2 separate regions of the Homo sapiens genome follow, and region 2 is linked to region 1. Evidence: fine-mapped expression QTL. A gene starts in region 1. The other region holds a variant in brackets. All regions are shown on one strand. Distances are from middle to middle.

Region 1 (13,382 bases):
CTTTTGTTTTCTTCTATAATACTTAATAGCATCCCATGAAACACACCTCAGTGTCATGAGAAGAAAATGCCTAAATGTTTAGTGGGGTACATACTCCTGAAATAAGGTCATTTCTCAGCCTCCCTCCCCCTTTGATCTATAACCATGTGACTGAAAGCTATCCAAGGAGATGTGAGGGAAGGTTTTGTATGAGGTTTCAGTAAAGGCTTGTTTGCCCTCTTTTCTTCCTTCTGGACTTGAAAATGAAGGCCAAAGCCATAAAGTGGTATTGAGATTGGACATAATGCATTAAGATCACAGAGTGGAAAGAGAAAAAGAGCCTGGGTCCCTGATGGCTGTGAAGAACACCACACGAGCCCTCAACTCTCTACTTTTGGATTTATTTTATGTGTAAGAAAAATACAATGTTGTTTTCTAAAGACATATGTATTTGGGGTTTTTCTAATATGCAGCTGAACATAGTTCTAACTCATACAGGGTCTTTTTGCTTTGAATTATGAAACACTTTTATGTTTCATAACATAATGATACAGAAAATAATAATACACATTATGTACTCACTACCTAAGTTATAGAGATTTTAACACTTTGCTTCTGCTTTCTCTTTAAACAACTATTTTTTTCCTTTTCATAATTTATTTGGCTATTCTGAGGCATTTATTCTAACATATGAACATTTGTCTAATTACATTTCTTTTTAAATCCCCGTTGGGATCCTAATTGGAATTGTATTACATACATGTATCAATTTGGGAAAATTGACTTTTTAATGGTGTTTAGACTTTCTATCCAAGGACATAGTAAGTTTTTGCATTTGTTCAAATTTTATTTTATGTTCAATAAAATTTTATGATTTTCTTTATAGGTCCTGTGGCTTTCTTATTTGATTTATTTAGAAATATCTCACAGTATTAAGCTATGGATTTTTATGTATTGTCTTATTGACTTCTCTCCAGCCCACAGCAAAGCAGAAACAAAGACTCAACAAAAAGCCATGGGGCCTTGTGCAAGAGAGAAAGACCTGGATGCATGTTTACGGAGTAAATTCTTCTGCTCTCAAACACACTATAAAGCTGGGGCTGAGGATGGGAGAAAAGAAAGCAGAGAGATGGATTCGAGGGATTTAGAGTGGGAAGGAGAAAAAGAACCTCCCATTAGGGGAAGCAGGAGTGGAAGGAAGGGACTCTGAGATGAAATGTCCTAAGGGAAAGGCCCTACCAGTCCACCATCACCACAGGATAGTCTGCACATAGAAGTTACCTATGGGAGAGAACAAGGGACCCTGGACATCAAGCGTGGAATGGGGGCATGTAGAGAAAACTCTGCTCATAACCAATGTAGAAATGAGTAGAACCAGTTGAGAATTTTTCTATGTGCTTGGGTTACAGGGGCTGCTGCATTTCCTAAACTTATCAAGCCATCAAAACTCCCTAAGACACATTTTTAAATACTGTCTCAAGGGAACTAGTTTTAGGAGGCTAGGCCATGCTGAAAGTTTATAAGCCAGTGATTGAAAACTCAATTGCCTTCAGTGGCAGTGGTGAAGCCTGTGGCAAAGGCATTCACATTCAACCTCTTAAAGTAAGGGGCTGCTGGACCAAAGCACAGTCTATGGCTTCCATTGACCCATGGGCTACCAGGTCTAGATTTTGGAAGATGATTTTCTGTCATTTCATAGACCAGTACTTTCTAACTTTTGTCCCAAAATGGTGCACATAGCAAATATTTGTACTGGTAGAGTGTGGTAAATGGACAAAATTGTTCCAGGAAGAGGGAACTGGCCCATGGCTTTGCCTCGTACCTCGCTCCCAGCCATACTCTGCCAATTCAACGGTGCAGAGGATTTGTGTCTAAGGTACACCTGTAACCCACCCTCAAACCTCAAACGCCAGTATGCCCAGGCACATGCAAGTTGAGAAGATCTTCATACTTGTTGTTAATTTAGCGATCAGATAAGAGATGTGCTTACAAGAGCAATGGAGAGAATCTTTACCCTTGATCCTATATACTATACGCCAAAAATTCCCCCAACAAACCTTGATCCAGATTGAGATAAAGGTGACATCAATAAATAAAAGATTTGCTAAGAATATTTTCATTATCCCAGCATAAACCCTTATTTAGAATCAATCATTCTGTACTTTTCATTATGTACCATCTACTGAGACTTGGAGACAAAAACTGTGAAAAGCAGACCCACTTAAATGCTACAGCAGACTTCCAGAGACCATATAGTTCTCTCTCTCTCTGTGTGTGTGTGTATGTATGTGTGTGTGTGTGTTCAGAAAATCTTGGAACTTACCTGCTTTGTGGGGGTGAAATCACTTGACTTTAGTTTTGGTTGTCTCACTCCTACCTCACCACACTCCCACCCACCAGAGAGGACTCTGAAAGGGTTCCATGGAGCACAGTTTGCAAGCCACCAAAGTCTAATTCCCTTATTTACAGTTAAGACCCAAAGAGATAAGGATAACCTAATTAGTTAGAGACAGAGTTGTGATTAGAAATGTTAGGTATGAAAATCAATTAGAGAATCCATCAGAAACAAATACATTTATAAATGGCTAATCTGTATAATCACAGTAAGTTTACTCCAAGTTATAGTAGCCTTTAAGTGTTATGTGCAATACAGCTGGCTTCTTGATGTCATTAACCAGCACAAGAAGAAGAGCTTGCTGAGAAGAAGTGCAGTCAGGTGGAAGGCAATTTTGGTGTTCTTTTCCTACCCATTGAGCTTTTAAATATCCTAACCCCCTATCAAATATTCATTCCAGGGAATAATCTACTATTGATTCTACATCTCCATATGAATTCATATTAATATGCTGCTTCTCCTGGGGACCATTAATTATTGGGGAAAAAAACACGATGAGGTTTTTCTCCCCTGATAAAGGGATTTCAGTCTGGTAGTGGAATACCTGGGATCTTCCTGAGCCCCTAAAAAAATAATAACCCCTTCTCAAATAGACAACTGGTCTATTTGACAGACATTTCCCATTCGGCCATTAGGAAAATGTTTCTTCCCAGCACTTGTAAGCAAATTCTGTTGATAAATATAGCCATTACAAAAAACATTTAGTAATCCAGCCAGTCAGCACATGAAATGTTTAGACAGGCGACTTGTAAAGATTATAAAGTGCCTATATCAAGCTTGGCCCACCTGCTCTTTCTGCTTGAATGATTAAGAGGGTTAAATTTAGTTCTAGAAAAAGTTATAGAAAAATTTATTTTTATTGATGCTAGTACAGAAGGATTTTTTTTGATTAGTGATGATCCTCACAGTGTTAAAGAAACCATGATATTCCCCTTAAATTTAACACAATGAACTTTGCTGACTGCCTTTACTACGCCAGGCACTGTGCTACTGATATCATGTGAGTTCTGATTCACTGGGGGTGATGTTTCAAAGCACTGCCCCTCTCTGAAGGGATTCCATGTACTTGTTCACCATCTGCGTAGTATTTGGAATCCCTGTGGCAGACTGTCATAGATTACGGGATATGGAACATTAAAGAGCATAGTCTACTCCATCCTTTCCTCCTTTTACTTTACACACAAGGAAACAGAGGTCCAAGAAATGTGGAATGGCATGTTACACATCTCACTGATGCACACTGGGGAGGCTGTGGGCCACGTGACACCCATGCCATATGCAGCCTCCTTCTGTATTTTTGCAGCGAGTCAGATTCTCCTAGGAGCTACGGACCATGGCACCGGCACCATCTGAGTTAGTGACAGTCATTGTCTGATATCCAGGCTAAGCCACCAAGATGGGAAGCTCAGGTTGGCATCTGAGCCAGGTTACCAACCTGAGGAGCAGCCTGGTGCCATTTCAATGGCCGATGACATGCGGGGAGGGGCTGACTGTGTGGCGCCCAGAAGACTTGCTTTGACAGACCCCTTCCTGGATACTGTATGAGTGTGTAAAAAGCAAAAATTTGGCTACAGCTTGTTACTTGTCCTTGATTTCTATGTGATTGTTTGATAGGAAGGTGCTATTAATACTTTCTTATGATTGGATTCTTTCCCTTAGAGATAATTGGATCTTACTTCGCCTTTCTTGCACATGGATTTGAAGATGAGTTCCCTAGACATATTTTTAGGTTTAAGAGCTAAACCTAAACCTTCATAGGCAATGAAACATCAAGGCCCAGAGCCAATTCTTTTCCTTGTCAAAAACAGAACTTTAAAGATATCTTACAGATATCTTTTTCAAATAAGTTCTGACACTCTCAAGATTAATCCTACACAGCATTTAGGCAATCTTATGCCACCCTGGCAACAATTTGAACTCAAACACTGACCTTGCTCTTTGAGGTTGAAAGGCCCAGCTGTCAGTCTATTTTGCCCATTAGAGCTTGATCTAAAAGAGATTTTTAAATTTTTTCGTACCATGAGCCCTTTTTGTAGTCTCATGAAACCTATTTGATTCAGAATAACATTTTTAAGTAGCGTAGGGTTAAAAAGGAAATGAATTATATATTTTTTAGAATGTATTTTTAAAATTATGATATTATGTGCTTTTTTATTAACATACTAAATTACATATCTTAAGTATTACCAACATTTTGAAGTCAGGGTGAATGTAAATATTTCTAGATATGTGCAACAACTGTAATGTTATCATAAAATTTCTGATTTTTATTGGTTACAAAGTCACAGACACTATACAGATATGACTAATAGTATTGGGGCTTGTTGCCTATATTCTGGATTGAATAAAATTCTAAATTTCAGTTAGAAATTAGTACAAATAGAGATTTTTTTTCACTGAAGTTCATGCAACCCACTGAGTTCCATACATGGGTACATTGGTGTGGGCCCGGTTAAGAACAGTAGCTAAGCTAATACTTTATGAACTGTGCTCTGTGCAACTCTAGGGACTCATGGAAGGGGACATTTTGCAGGTGGTTAAAGCTTTGGGTTCTTTTATAAAACTACCTAAATGTTTCATGAGGCACTCATTTGCAATCCATTTCCTTGTCTTATTTTGTTCCCAAACCGCAGATTCATCTTCACATAGCATTGTTCCCCAAGTACAAGCTAAGAATGTGCCAGGAAATCAACTTGAACACTTGATTAAGATGAAACAATTGCAAATAAATAAATGTTCTGTGAGTTTAGAGGGTTTGGAAACCCAGGCTGAAGGGATATCCGCCCTCCCCATGACTCCCGGATACTTTTGGTGGCAATGAGCCCATACAGATGACCTTCAAAGTTTTAGACAAGGACAGGAGTCCTTGGCCCAGCATAGCACAAGGAACTATTCAGCATGCCAGGGAGTGGAGCTTTAAGCAGACACAGAAGTGTGGTTATGGGTTGCCTTGGGGGCTGCTGAAAGAAAACATTTCTCCACGTCTGAAGACTTGACTTTGCTGTCTACAAAAAGGATGTTAGACCTTCAGTTTCTTTTTTATGGATTTATTTCTTCTTCTCTTTTTAAACTTAATTAAAGCTGCCCACCATTTCCCTGTCTTCTGTCCATTGCACCCTTCCCTGGTGTTAATTTTCTTCTTTGGTTACTATTAGTGCCAAGATTTTGCTGCCACTTACCCCATCCCTGTCCTGGCCTGCCGCCCCTATACAAAAACATTGAGGTAGGAGTGTTGAGACAGGAGAGGATTTAACAGTTTAGTCAGGGAGCAACCTCAAGGAGAGAAAAATAAATGATAAAAGACTTCTTAAAAATTATTCACAATTAACAATGGAGAGAACACTGAGATTGAAGTAATTAAAGGGGGAAGTTTCACTCTTAAAAATCTATATATAACCATATCATTGGAATTTGTTTCTACATTAAGCACAAATTATTTCTGTATTTAAAAAAAGGAAAATTAGGCAGAATTGGCTACTATGTTGTCATTATTAAAATTACTAGTCATTTATGAGTTCATCTCATTTAGCTCATCTGATTTTCTGCAATAGTAACTATAGTTCCATTTTTTCCAACCATGTGCTTTTCTTATCCATTGAATAAACAAAAAGGAAATCAATAATCCTCTGCTGATCTTTTTCTTTATGACTTTATCTCAGCGCCCATTTATCTGCCGCCCCACAGTTTGTGTTATCAATACATGAAGGATGACTGCAACCTCCTGCTTATGATGTCACCAATCTTAGCTTTTCAGCCCCATGTGTTGGGATAAAACACTGACCCTCCTTAATTACTTTATTTTCAAAGTAAACATATCCCCCCCTTTATTTTAGTTGCTTCTTATCTCCTAAATTACATCTCTGCTATTGCCGCCGGAGACCTCACAATGTCTTTGGACTTCTGACCAAACTTATATTTTTGGTAGTGCTCCAAACATTACCAAAACGAACAAACATGGAACAAACATGCTGCTAAACCAGTCTGAGAGCCACTGCAGGCCAGGCAGAGTGGGGAGTCTATCCTTCCTCCTGCAGGACTTGTGATCCTTGACTCCAAAAAATGAGGGTGAAAAGGCACAAAAACTCTCCTCCCTCACTTTATTCTCAGAGCCAAAAATTGGCTGCAGACATTCTGTGTGTTTTTGTATCCACACCACACATGATGTTGGCACCATGGGTGTATGTCTTAAGAATGTTTTCCAAACAGCCACCATCTGGATCCAAATATGAGGCTTTACTCTCTCAAAACTTTTTCCAAGAATATGAGAAGGAAAGATGACAATTACCTGCCCTGTCATTTCCTAGAAAAAGCTCTGTTTTTAAACTGAACCAAAGAAAAACCACAAACTTTTGCACCACAGCCAATATCTAAATGTGTTTGGTTTCTGAGTGTCTCAAATTTCTTAAGTTAAAATCCATTAATATACAAATCCACCCTCCACCCTCCTCACACGCAGGCACACAAACCACACTGAGCTACTCACCGGACAATCTGTCAGTGGGTCCCTCATGTTGAAATGTGTCTGGCTTTTGTCCTTTCACCTACGCTCCAGCATTCTGGACACTGTAATCAAGGTTGGGTGTGTCCTGGACTTCCGGGATTCAAAGGGCCTAGAGTACGTCAGTCCTTGTCAAACATTCCAAGGAGGAAGTCCCAGCCCTGGACTTTCATCCCGTTTGTGTCCCGAGAAAGTAAAGAACTGCTCTGGGTCAAGACGGCCAGTGTGAGATAGTGAGAATGACTTCTGTAAACCCTCAGAGGGCAGGATCCTGAGTCCTGAACAGCGTAACATTGAGAGAAGGCAGAGAAGCTGTAACATGTCTCCAACAATTCTTGCGCTTGGTCTGACAGTGCAGGAACACATATCCTCTCAGCCTGCAGTATTAATCATGCTTTTTATTTTCTGTATTGTATGATGCTTTGACCTTTGGGGACCTCATGGACTTGGAGACAGACTGCCTCTCTGAGGGTTAGCTAATTCCTAGAGAGAGCAAACAACTGGCCTGTGAGCACTCCTTTAATATGCAAACCAACAAATCCAGAGCCCAAACCTCCCCACCATCTCTGTTACCCAGTTCTCAAATACCAAGCCCATATTCCCCCACCCCCTAAATCCCACAGGGCCAGACACCAAACAACTAGGAACCTACACCTATAGAACTATAACTATAGAATGTTCAGAAACAGCTATCAGGAGCAAAGCGTACATTAACCACTTCTCTGAGCCTAACTCCACACTCGCTCCAGCCCCAACAGGATCAAGAGGCTAAGCTTTCAATGTAAAGAAAAAATTGCCTAGATCTGGCCTCATTTTTCATCACTCAAAAGGATAGACAGAACAAGAACTCAACCACAGCTTGAGTTCTATTGCATTCCCTGTACCTGTGGTCCCAGTTGCCAATCATTAGATTTCCAATGAATGGCCTATTGATGTACGACAGCCATTTGCTAGACTGTGGACAGTTCTGTTTGACTGGCAGGCAAGGGCAGGCCCCAGTTTGAAAGGAGCTCCATCAACACAGTCCAGTGGAACACTTCAGAGTTTAAAAGCATTCAGTTTTCACCTGACTGGCTGACTCAGCCTCCATTCACCTGCCCCTGGTGTGCAGGCTCCATTCAAAGTCCCTAGAAATAAGCCAGTTGCAGTGGCTCATGCATGTAATCCAAGCACTTTGGGAGGCCGAGCCTAGAGGGTCACTTGAGGCCAGGAGTTTGAGAGCAGCCTGGGCAATATAGCAGGAGATTCCTATCTCTATAATTTTTTTTTTTTAATTAGGATGTGGTGGTATGTGCCTGTAGTCCCAGCTACTCAAGAGGTTGAGGCAGAAGGATTTCTTGGGTCTAGGGGTTCAAAGCTGGGCAATAGAGTGAGACTCTACTTCTAAAAAAAAAAAAAAAAAGCTTCCAGAAACAACGTAGAAGAGTCAGGGGACAATTAAGGAAAAGAACTTGCCTTGCAACAAGAGTGGAGAGGAGGGGTCTTTTCCACACACTTAATGCCCTCCCTCTTTGCTTATCCAAAGAACTTGATCACTGGAGGTTACAACAATCTTGGGTAGCTACCACAGGGCTAGAATTAGACAAAGCAACTCTGTATAATAAAAGAAATTTAGGTAAGGCACAGTGGCACACACCTGTAATCTTAGCACTTTGGGAGGCTGAGATGGGAAGACTGCTTGAGGCCAGGAGTTCGAGACCAGCCTGGTCAACATAGCAACACCCCATCTCTTTTTTTGTTTTTTTTTTAAAAGAAATTTAGAGACAGGATATAGACTGAGGTTAATAACATGTAACTCAAATTCCCACTTGAGGGGGCTTCTCTGCCCTCAGAGATTTTAGATAAACTTGTCCGGAGCCACCATTCCAGGACTTGGGACAGCTCAATGTTTTCTCTGTGATTCCTGCCCCATTTTTCTTGCTGTTCTGTGTTTCATTTCAGTCCCAACTGAGTCCAAACTGAGGAAATTGGCCTCCCTTGCCAGTTTCCATAAGAAGTGCTGTCACACAAAGCCTACTGTGATCTTTGTATACGAATTATAGATTGGTAGGGCACTCCTATCCCCAAACTCCTCATGTGTGCCATTCCCAGTGGGCTGACTAGCTTTCCCTCAGACCTCCTGGACATCTGCTGAATTAAAATCCTTCCATCTTGCTCCTGTCTGCCACTGGGCCGTTGTAAGGGCAGCAGGGCATCCCAGCTGAATCCAGACTGAGAATTAGAACTTGGCTATTTGTTGAGCTTCTCGGAGGAATGTTTGAATGTGCAAAAAGCCTTGATTTTGGAGGTCAGAAATAGGTTGGTATCGTTTATCCTTTGTCACAATAATGCTGTGTAACAAACAGAAACCCAGTGGCTTCAAATGACAGAGACTTTATTTGGTTCACAAATCTGTAGTTTAGCTGGATGGATCTTCAGGTGTCCCCTGACCTCACTCATGTAAAAGCAGGTCATCTACACAGGGCTTGGCAGAGCCATGCATCTGGGCTTTTCTGGGCAGGGGGCTGGCTGGGAGCTAGCTGTTGGCTGAGGCCGTATTTCATCAGCTGGTAGTCTAACCAGGCTCTTCTCAGGGTATGGCAGAGGAGCCACAAGAGTGAGTGGAAGAGCTCGAGGCCTCTGGAGGTACAGCTTAATATGGACATCCCATCATTTCAGCCACATCCAGCTGATCAAAGCCAGTCATGGGCCAGCCCAGATTAAAGGGGTGAGGAGAGCTTCCACTTCATAATAGGAGGAACTTAGTGTCCCATTGCAAAGGGCATAGAGACAGAGAGGGGCAGACAATTGGAGTTAGTTTTCCATTCAATTTACTACAATGGCTGCTTAATATTTGTTCTTGAATGACTAGAGATAAAGCAGCAAGGACAAGGAGCAGGTGGCTGGTATATGTCTTTCTTTCCCTCTCCCCAATCCAGCCTGGGGTGACACGTTTTGAACCTCAGCAGACTGGCGTTAGGAAGAGAAATAAGAGGACCTAAATCATAAAAGACTCTAGACGGATAAGGGCTGTTCTCTCCTCTGACCCCACATTCCACCCTACACATACTCTGCTAAGGAGCACAGCAAAAAGCACCTCTCCTGGATATGGGTTGTGAGGAGGCAGCAGCAGGGAGAACCTGCTAAGTTGTCTTCAGCCACTGAGGCTCAGGTAGGTGAGGCATCTTGATGAGAAGGATAGAGCAGACCACAGTGAGCACATTTGTCCCCGAGCATGTGAGAATTCCTCCAGTCCCCAAAAATGGCCCAAGGGGACTTTGGGAGGAGGAGACTGAGTTCCCATGTGAGTAAGAGGAGCAAAGAATCTTGTAGTTTTGGAATTAATATTAACAACCTCATTTGTACCTACAGGTTGATGAGAATGTGAACCTAAAGGAAAGAACAACTGAGGCCAACTTAATATAAGTAGAGCATTTACTTGGGCCAAGCTTGAGGGCTGCAACCCAAGAGCATAGTTTCAAGTGGCCCTGAGTATACGCTCTGGTTAGCAGCAGGTACAAGTAGGTTTTCAAAGGAAAAGAAGAGGAAGAGGAAGCTCCTGAGTTGTTTGCCAAGAATTTCCATGAAAATAACACAAGCTGTTGATTGGCTCTACACTGTTCTGTGAATCACAAATTCCAGGACCATAAAGATAGCAGATGAGGCAGCTAGTCAGGAACAAGATGCCTTTACATGATTGCTTCTAGGTGTGGGTTCAAGGAGGCAGAGCAAGACTTGAGCCCCATACTCCCCTCTCTGGGCCTGATAAATTTTGCATACCTCATATAGCTCAGACTGCTCTAAGCCATTTTTCTTCTCTCAAGAACTATCTTCTGTCTGTCTGTCTGTCTGTCTATCTATCTATCGATCGATCGATCGATCGAAGCATCTCCTCCAAGAAGGTATGCCATTCACACTTTCTGAAAATTTTAATGCACAAAGAGTCCTTTTGAGTTCTCTGTTCTCAGATTCGTCTCTGGTCCTACATTTCTGACCCGCACTCATACTCTGGCTGCTTTCCAGCCTGGCTTCCGGTTAGATTTACTGTCTGACCTCTCCTATCCTAATCTTCCTGCTTTCTTTCTCAGTCTCTGCTCAGCATGTGCCTTCCTGGTATGGCCTCTCTGCAGAAAGAAAACCTGCAACGGATTCCCTTCCAGGGTCTGGCCTGGAAGCTGCTCTGCTGGACTCCAACTTTGACATTTTGTGCTGCCTCTAAGGGGAGTTAACAACATGAGTACGCATTTATGAAGTATTCACAAACAAATATTGGGTGTTGGTAAGCTAGTAAGAAAAAGGAGCCCAAATGTAATAGAAGCTCATGGCAATTCAAAACTTGCCTTGGAAGTTTCTTTAGTAGCCAAAGCGTGCAAAGAATTGGCAACAGCATGAACATCATCAATTGAGACCTAGTTAAATACTTTATGGTAATATGAGCCCACATTTAAAGGACATACCACGTGTCAGGCACCATTCTAAGTGTTTTACAAATACAATTGGCTCTCCATATCCCTGGGTTCTGCATCTGTAGATTGAAAATAATAATTTTAAAAATAACAATAAAAATACAAATAAGTATTTATGACTATTTATATAACGTTTACATAGCATTAGGTATTATGAGTTACCTAGAGATGATTTAAAGTACATGGGAGGATGTGTGTAGGTTATATGCAAATATGACACTATTTTATATAAGGGACTTGAATATCTTTGGATTTTGATATGAGGGGGTATCCTGAAACCAATGCCCCATGGATACTGCGGGATGACTTATTAACTTATTTAATCATCACAGTTATCATTTGAGGTAGATATGTATTATTTTGATCCTTATAATACCCACAGGGCAACAGAGGCACAAGGTAGAGACAGGGTCTCACCATGTTGCCCAAGCTTGTCTCAAACTCCTGAACTCCAGCGATTCATCTGTCTTGGCCTCCCAAAGTGCTGGGATTACAGAAGTGAACCACCACACCAAGCAACATTAAAAAAAAAAAAAATTTAAGGTTAACACTTATGCTAACTTTAATTTTAAAAAAAGAACTGACAGTTGAGATGATGACATGTTATTTTTGTATCTCTAGGATTTTGCTTATGCTGTCCCTTCCAGTGGGAAGTCCTTATAGCTTTATGTTGGCCCAGCTGACTTTTACTTATTTCCAAAGTCTAGCTTGTGTTGCTTTCCCCAGAGAGAGTGAACTCTTGCCTTTGTACTACTGCTATCCATTGCACACACCTCTTTTACTTTGTTTATCTTATTGTGTTGAAAGTATTAGTTTAGGCTGGGTGTGGCAGCTCATGCCTGTTATCTCAATACTTTGGGAGGCTGTAGCAGAAGGGTTGCTTGAGCCCAGGAGTTCAAGACCAGCCTGGGCAACATGGTAAAACCCCATCTCTACCAAAAATAAAAAATAAAAAAACTAGTCAGGCATGGTGGTACGTACCTGTAGTCCCAGCTATTCAGGAGGCTGAGGTGGGAGGATCACCTGAGCTTGGGGAAATCGAGGCTGCAATAAGCCGTGTTCATGCCACCACACTCCATCCAGCCTGGGTGACAGAGAGAGACCTTGTCTCCAAAAAAAAAAAAAAAAAAAAAAGAAAAAAGAAAAAGAAAGAAAGAAAAGAAAAGTATGAGTTCAATGGTCTGCCTCCCACAGTACTCAGTGAGCTCCTCATAGCCAAGTATCTGGAGCAAAGTAAGTGTTCAATAAATAATTGCTTTCATTTGATTGAATTAAATACTGAGAGAGTGACTTCATTCGCAAGTTTCTCTTTTTTGGCAAGGCAGGGGATATTGTTTACGGGTAGGCCCATATCCTCAGCTATCAGGAAGCAGAGTTCAAAACACTGAGACAGAAGATAAGTGTGACCTTCTGGGCAGGAACTCTAAAATGGGAAATGGCTCCAATGCACTTGGGAGGCTCTGACACTGATTAAAATGGCCTTGACAAGCAGGAAACGAAGTAGGATTCCGCAAGAATCCCAAGGGGCCACTTAGAGAACTTTCTTGGAGGTTTGTTGGTTAAAAGATATAAACAGATGAGGTAAGGAGAGTCTTGGGACTGAGAATAAAATCGAAGAGTGCCCTAATGTTAAGAATAAGTTTGGGAGAGCTGGAGTCTAGAATGAGCAGAGTTCTGACAAGTTTGCCAAGAACATCTAAGAGAATTTTTGCTATATTCACAGCAAGATGACCGTAAAGGGACAGCCCCTGGGCTTGGGGCAGCTGGCCCGCTGGTATTGAAGACCAAGTGAGCAGGAGTACTTAGCCAAGCTGCTGGGGTCCAGCGGTTAAGGGGTCAGGTGGGAGCAGCTAGCTGTCAGCAGGCCACATCTTCAAGAGCACTTTCTTCCTAGGACTAGCTATGACATGGGTGACACGTCTTGACACACCTTAACATGTCTTCCGAAGGCCAACTCCCGGTTCTGAGTCCTGGACGACGCCTAGTCCTTGGCCTGTTTGAGCTGACAGGAGCAGCAGCGTTCCCTGTTGTCACTGCATGCACATGAGTGCCATGGCAGTGTTTA
Region 2 (8,000 bases), 78 kb before region 1:
GTGCAGCAAGTCTTCAGGTGGCGATATCTGATAGGCAATGGATATATTCATCTGGAAGCCAGCCAGAAAAGTGGTCTTTGCTGAAGATAGGGATTTGTGAGTCTTTAGTGTATTTAGGGGGTTGAAGCTGTGGAAGAATATGTAGAGTGAAAGAAGGTAGCCTTGGTTAGTAATAATATTTATTTACTCATTACTGTGTGCCAGGTACTGTGCTAAATGCCTTACATTGACCACCTCCTTCAGTCCTCATGATAGTTCTCCAGGGTTGGTATCATTTATTATTATTATTCCTACTTTTCTGATATTGCAGTCCCAGAGAGATTATGATTTGCCCCAGATCATCAGATTAACTCCAGAAGCCTTACTCATCTTCAGAGCATTACATTTCCTCTCCAATTTGAGAGAGTTAAATGGAAACGACCAGGAAAGACAGAATTCGTAATTGGAGAACAGAGGAAGTAAGAGAGAAGGTCACCAAAACTAAAAGAGGAGAGAAATAATAAAGGGTGTTGTTAACACTGTAAGTCACAGGTAGATCCAGTAAGGTAAAGATTGAGATAGATATTTTGGGAACAAGAAAGATGGAAGGAATTCATTCACTGACCAAATACTTGTTGAGCTACTGCTGTATACCAGGTAATCTTCTAGGAAGATACTGCAGAGAACAAAATAGCCTAAAGTTCTGGAGCCATAAATTCTAATTATCACAAGAAGGAAGATCATCTATTGAAAGTGAGAGGTATTTACTATGGGCAGGCTTTTACATTATTATAAATCCTGAAGTCTGTCTAAGACAGAGATTATCCCTGTTTTACAGATGAGGAAATTGAAGCTCACTGAGGTTAAGAAACTTGCCTAAGGTAAATAGAGGATCTAGGATCACAATGATAGTGTCTGTGCTCTTTCCATTGTGCTATACTGACGTGCATTGGAGTGAAAATGCAAAGAAGGGTTCCTCTGGTGTGTAGGAGTGAAAGTTTGAAATGTCGGTCCTGGGAATAAGACAGCCTGCTATGTACACATGTAATAATAGTCACACAGCAGGCCAGGTGCAGTGGCTCACACCTGTAGTCCTAGCAATTTGGGAGGCCGAGGCAGGCGGATCACGAGGTCAAAAGATCAAGACCATCCTGGCCAACATGGTGAAACCCCATCTCCACTAAAAATATAAAAATTAGCTGGGCGTGGTGGTGAGTGCCTGTAGTCCTGTCTGCTCAGGGGGCTGAAGCAGGAGAATTGCTTGAACCCAGGAGGCGGAGGTTGCAGTGAGCTGAGATTGCACCACTGCACTGCAGCCTGGCGACAGAGCGAGACTCCATCTCAAAAAAAAAAAAAGAAAAAAAAATGGTCATACAGCATCGAGGACTCCTATATTTGTATTGGCCACAAATCACACAGTTCTTCAAATGTTATAATAAAAACACTCTCATATGTGGTATTTATGTGTCACTAGTTTAAAAGTTTTTGTATTATTATTACTGGATACTCTAACCCCAGTGAATGAGGTAGCCAATGTTATCCCCATTTTACAAATGAGCAAAAGAGTTTCAGAAGTCGTGATTTTGACCGAGATCTTTGGGTAAGAACTGATAAGCTGAATCAGACTTGAGACCTTTGACTTTCAATCTGAATTTCTTGTGTAGTACAATTCTACTTAATTTTTTTCTTTAAATAGTAGCATTTTTCTTTCTAGTAAGATGTTTATTTTTAAATTATACTTGACGTAATATATGATCATGTTCATATTCTTAGAACATACAGAAAAGCAAAAAATATCACCTGTAATGTTGAGAACCATATTTAACAAAACAACTTTCTAGCTTTTGTTTTTCATGAGCTATGTAGGTTTTTAACGTAATTATATTCATGGTATCTATATAACTATCTTTTTTTTTCAACTTTGAGAATATTTTCCCACATTGCTAAATTGTTTTGAAAATACATTCCATCTTATCGATATACCATATTTTAAAAATCATTTGCTTGTTAGCCATTGAAGATGTTTTCAGTTTTTCATTATAAATACTGAAAAATAATTTTTATATATAAATATTTGCACGTATCCTATTTCCCTAGGGTAACTTTGTAAAAATGAAATTGCTGGGTCAAAGGAGGTAAATATTTTTAAGGCTCTTTTATTTTACAATGTCAAAAATATTTTCTAGAAGGACCCTAGCATTTTGCATTCCTCTCAATATTAGTAATTATTTCTGTAAACATTGTTGTAATAAATGAAAATTGAAATCTTACTGTTTTACTTGCATTTCTGTGATTAATCTGAGGTTAAATTATCTTTCATATTTATTAGCCATCTGCATTCTGTGTTTCATCTGTTTATCCCTTTGTCTGTTTTTTTCTTAGGAATTTGTATTTGTGTCTTCCTCTTGAGATTAAAATGGTAACCCATTGTTGGAGGAGGATAATTTAATGGGCAAAGCATTGCCTTTGAAGTCAAGACCTGAGTTTGAATGCAGTCTGTCTGTCTGTTTATTTATTTATTTATTTATTTTTGAGACAGGGTCTCGCCCTGTCACCAGGCTGGAGTGCAGTGGCGTGATCGCAGCTCACTGCAACCTCCGACTCCCTGGTTCAAGCTATTCTGCCTCAGCCTCCCTAGTAGCTGGAATTACAGGCACACGCCACCACGCCCAGCTCATTTTTGTATTTTTAGCAGAGACGAGGTTTCACCATGTTGGCCAGGATGGTCTCGATCTCCTGACCTCATGATCCGCCAGCCTGAGCGTTGCAAAGTGCAGGGATTACAGGCGTGAGCCGCCATGCCTGGCCCTTATTATTTATTTTAGCCTAGCAAATACAGCTTTGGGCAAGTTACTGAACTGCTGAGTGTTTTTCCTCTTCTTTTAAAAAAGTAGTAAAAGACTAAAGAATTTATTTTGGATTTCGGCACTGTTTAGAGAATAATCTACCTCTTGAACATTGATTTGATATTTCATTTATCATATTAACTTCCTAACTGCCAACGTTTGTTTGGCATATCTTTTATAATATTTAGAAGCATAAAATATCTCTTCATATATCCAGATCAAATATGTGTCTCAGACAAGCTTTGCAGTTTTTTTCAAACAGAGCCTACATATTTCTTGATCTAGGTTGATTCTGAATTTTCTGTTTGTTACCTCTGTAAACGAGATTTTCCTGTTGCCTGAGGAATGCTTGTCTTGAGAGATGTTGTTCAAGCACTGAGAATTCCATGCTCACTTCAATTTGGGAAACATATCATAGTGTATTTCTCTTTTGAAGATTTATGGTATTTAAAGTCTTCATAAATTCAGTGATGGACTAACTTGTTTAACTTTGAGAAAAAGATTACTCATCCTTGGAGCACATATTTACTTGTAATTATGATACTGGAATTAAATGACAGTATAGATAGTTTGGTTTATTTGATACAATTCTAGACTACTGGCATTAATTGGCATTCGATTTTAAAGTGTTTAGATTTCATTTAAGTATTAGTAAAACTAAATCTTTAATTCAGAAATTCATAAGCACATTATAAAGCACCACTTGAGCTCTACTGGCTCTGCTTATTTGACCTCAGTAGCCTCTGCCCTAGAGCTCTTATGCTTTTTGTGCCTTCCTGCTTTGTCTAGCCCCCTGATTGGCATTTTGGGGACACCATCTCTGTGCAATGGGCCCCAAGTAGCAGCGGTTGTATCTTTCTTCCAACAAACAGAGGAAGAAGTGGTCCTGCCAGGGTTACTCCTTTCCCAGCAGAGAGGTTTGGCCAGGTTTATGCACAGGCATTG[T/C]TGTTTTTATTTTGAGCATGTGTGTGAGAAAGGGGTGGGTAGTTGCAGAAGCTGAGTGTTTAAGAGGGCTAGGGCAAGAAGAACTTGTACAGAGAGTGACAGGGACATGGGGAAGGCAGGGAAGGTAGAGAGATTAAAGCCAAGAAGGAGTAATGAGGTGCTGGCCAATATGTGAGACAGATGTAAAAGGCCAGTATTTTGGTACATGGATACCTTGTTTTATTGCACTTCACTTTATTGCACTTTACAGATATTGCAATTTTTACAAATTAAAGGTTAATGGCAACCATGTGTCAAGCAAGTCTGTGGGCACCATTTTTCCATCAGCATGTGGTGACTTCGTATCTGTCACATGTTGGTAATTCTCACAAGATTTCAAACTTGTCATTATTATATTTCTTGTGGTGCTCTATGATCAGTGATCTTTGACGTTACTATTGTAATTGTTTTAAGTGCCATGAATGACACCCATATAAGATGACAAACTTAATGGATAAATGTTGAATGACTTCTGACTGCTCTGCTGACCAGCCATTCCTGTCATTCTTCCTCTCCTTGGGCCTCCCTAGTCTCCAGTATTGAAATTAGGCCAATTAATAACCCTATAGTGACCTCTAATTGTTCAACTGAAAGAAGGAGTCATAGGTCTCTCACTTTAAATCAAAAGCTAGAAATGATTAAGCTTAGTGGGAAAGTGTGTCAAAAGCTGAGATAGGCTGAAAGCTTGGCCTCTTGCGCCAATTAGCAAAAGTGCTAATTCAGTGAACACACGAATGATAAGAAAGAGAAACAGCCTTATTGTTAGAGAAAATTTTAGTGGCCTTAATAGAAGAGCAAACAAACCACAACATTCCCTTAAGCAAAAGCCTAATTCAGGGTAAGACTCTAGCCCTCTTCAATTCTGTGAAGGCTTGAGAAAGATGAGGAAGTTTCAGAAGAAAAGTTTGAAGCTAGCAGAAGTTGGTTCTTGAGGTTTAAGGAAAGCAGCTGCCTCCATAAAATAAAAATGCAAGATGAAGCAGAAGTGCTAATGTAGAAGCTACAGCAAGTTATCTAGCTAAGATCATTGAATGAACAGATCATTAAAGAACGGATTTTTGATGTAGATGAAAAAGCAGTTTTCTATTGGAAGAAGATGCCATCTAGGACTTTCATAGCTAGAGAGAAGTCAAGGCCTGCTTTGAAGCTTCAAAGACAGGCTGACTCTTTAGTGACTAATGCACCTGGTGACTTTAAGTTGAAGCCTGTGCTCACTTGCCATTCCCCAAATCCTAGGGCCCTTAAGAATTATACTAAATCTACTCTGCCTATGTTCTATAAATGGAATAGCAAAGCCTAGATGACAGCACATGTGTGTATAGCATAGTTTACTGAATATTTTAGGCCCACTGTTGAGGCCTTCTACTCAGGAAAAAAGATGGCTTTCAAAATATTTCTGCTCATTAACAGTGCATCTGGTCACTCAAGAGCGCTGATGGAGATTAGTGTTGTTTTCATGCCTACTAAGACAACATCCATTCTGCAGCCCATGGATCAAGGGGTAGTTTTGACTTTCATGTCTCATTATTTAAGAAATAAGGTTATAGCTACCCAAATAGTGATTAACTCTGATAGATCTGGGCAAAATAAATTGAAAACCTTCCAGAGAAAGGATTCACCATTCTAGATGCCATAGAACATTCGTGATTCACAGGAAGAGGTCAAAATATCAACATGAACAAGAGCTTGGAAGAAGTTGATTTTAACCCTCATGGATGACTTTGAGAGGTTCAAGACTTCAATGGAGAAAGTAACTACAGATGTGGTAGAAATCACAAGAGACCTAGATTTAGAAGTGGAGCCTGAAGATGTGACCGAATTGCTGCCATCTCAGATAAAACTTGAATGGATAAGGAGTTGCTTCTTATGGATAAGCAAAGAAAGTGGTTTTATGGAATGGAATCCACTCCTGGTGAAGATGCTGTGAACATTGTTTAACTGACAACAAAGGATTTAGACTATTATATAAACTTAGTTGATAAAGTAGCGCAGGGTTTGAGAAGACTGACTCCAATTTTGAAAACAGTTCTACCAGGGGTAAATGCTGTCAAACATCATTGTATGCTGCAGAGAAATCTTTCATGAAAGAGTTGATTAATGCAGCAAACTTTATTGTTGTCCTATTATAATAAATTGCCACAGCCACCCCAACCTTCAGCAGCTACCACTCTGATCAGTCAGCAGCCATCAACATCAAGGCAAGACCCTCCCCCTGCAAAAGTTTAGGACTTGCTGAAGGCTCAGATGATTATTAGCATATTTTAGCAATAAAATATTTTTAATTAAGATATGTACATTTGTTTTTTAGCCATAATGCTATTGCACGCTTAATAGACTACAATATAGTGTAAAATAACTTTTCTATGTACTGGGAAACCAAAACATTTGTGTGACTTGCTTTATGGCAATATTCGCTTTATCACAGTGATCTGGAATAGAACTTGCAATATCTCCAACGTATGCCAGTACTTAAAAATAGCACAGAATAGCAAAAACTAATAAAACCAATAAAAACAAAGAACAAAAACGAATATTGCAGCTATTAATATTAGTATAAACATCTATTCTTACCTATGTATTAATCACTGGTGTTATGTACAAAAACTATTGATTTTTTTGGGGTGTAGTACCACAAATTCTGATAGGTTTTCAGTAGATTTTTCTGAGTATTCTAGATAGATGTCTATTGTCTACATATAATGAAAAATAGTTCTTGTTTTTTCCTTATAGTTTTACCAGCTAAATATCTTGTCTTGGCCAGAAACTTCTAGGGAAATATTAAATAACAGTGCTAACTGGCATCTATTTTATTCCTTTTGGAAATGCCAAATATATATGATGAGATTTGAAAGGTTTTTGATTTGTTTCTATCATGTTAAATGTCCTTCCATTTATAGTTAAGAATAGTCAGGAGTGGATGCTGAATTCATATGAAATGTCTCTTCAATTCTTATTCATGTGATGGATTTTCCTAATATTACACCTTCACTATGTAAAATCCTTGGTATAAACTATATTTGCTCTTAGTGGATTATTTTTAATGTAACTTAATATTTTATTGAGCATCTTTGCACCTATGTTTTTAAGTGAGATTAGTTTATATAGTTGTGGGCAGAGGGCCAGTGCTATCTTTAATTTTTTGTTTTAGCTTTAGAATTATGCTTACATTGTAAGCTTTGCCTGCCCACCTGTCTTCCTTCACTTATTTCTGTCTTTTGGTATGTTCCGGAATAATTTATATAGCATTAGAGTGAGGCTTTTCCTCAAAGCACTGTTTAAAACCATCTTCTAGAGTTTGGTTGTTGGCCAGGCGTGGTGGCTTGCACTGGTAATCCCAGCACTTTGAGAGGCTGAGGTAGGAGGATTGCTTGAGCCTAAGAGTTTGAGACTAGCCTGGGCAACATAGTGAGACAAAAAAATTTAAAAATCAGCCAGGCGTGATGTGGTGTGTGCCTGTAGTCCCAGGTACTAGGGATGCTAAGGTGGGAGGCTGCAATGAGTAGTGATTGTGCCACTGTATTCCAGCCTGGGCAACAGTGAGACCCTGTTTCAAAAAAATATAAAAATAAAATAAATAATAGAGTTTAGTTATCTTTGTTGGTAGTTTTTATTTCTGTGCTTATTTGGAGTGGGGAGCTGCAAGGGTCATGATCTTTTGATTTTCTGTTTCTTGATTTAATTTGGTATTCTCATTTTAAGAAGCTTTTCTGTCTCATTTTTTTTAAAGATGAGTAAGTAGGAAAGAATAGATTAGGTTTTTTTTCTTTTTTGTCTTTTATAATTTTGAATCATTAGAAAATGCTTATCAGTCAAAACATTCTTTATTAATCTTTATGAAAGTCAGTAAACTTTGGCCTTTTCTTAGATACATGTCAGAGAGCCAAGCATATTCTAGCTAATACCTTGTGCTTCTTACAGAGATCAGCAGGCAAAATAAGCTCATTCAAGAAAAAAAGGATAACTTGTTAAAATTGATTGCTGAAGTAAAAGGCAAAAAGCAGGAATTGGAAGTACTGACTGCAAATATCCAGGATCTTAAGGAAGAATATTCTAGGAAGAAGGAAAGTAAGTTTCCTCTTATAAACATACTGATCTAAAATGGAAAGTGGTGACGGTTCACCTTTATTAAGTACATCTTGCCTGTTCCAGTTCATTGCTAAAAATGGATTACAGTACCCCAGGGCATAACCA

Alleles and levels. Alleles are on the strand shown, and positions count from the first base shown. SD is a standard deviation of normalised expression in the study named.
As copies of T replace C in region 2, the expression in stomach of the gene that starts at base 6,894 in region 1 goes down (small effect, 0.31 SD a copy in GTEx).

Evidence for each region.
Region 2: its variant is fine-mapped to the expression of NOSTRIN in stomach (GTEx, PIP above 0.99).

The regions. Positions count from the first base shown.
Region 1 is chr2:168,796,149-168,809,530 of GRCh38, reverse strand. It overlaps NOSTRIN (nitric oxide synthase trafficking), which reads right to left and starts at 6,894. Exons shown (of 16, transcript NM_001039724.4): 1 at 6,858-6,894. The coding sequence starts at 6,884. RefSeq lists enhancers at 6,951-7,450, 10,778-11,072.
Region 2 is chr2:168,877,112-168,885,111 of GRCh38, reverse strand. SPC25 (SPC25 component of NDC80 kinetochore complex) reads left to right here. Exons shown (of 7, transcript NM_020675.4): 4 at 7,728-7,874. Among named protein-coding and RNA genes, the nearest start is that of SPC25, 9.3 kb to the left of the region's middle. The variant T/C (reference allele first, on the strand shown) is at 3,771.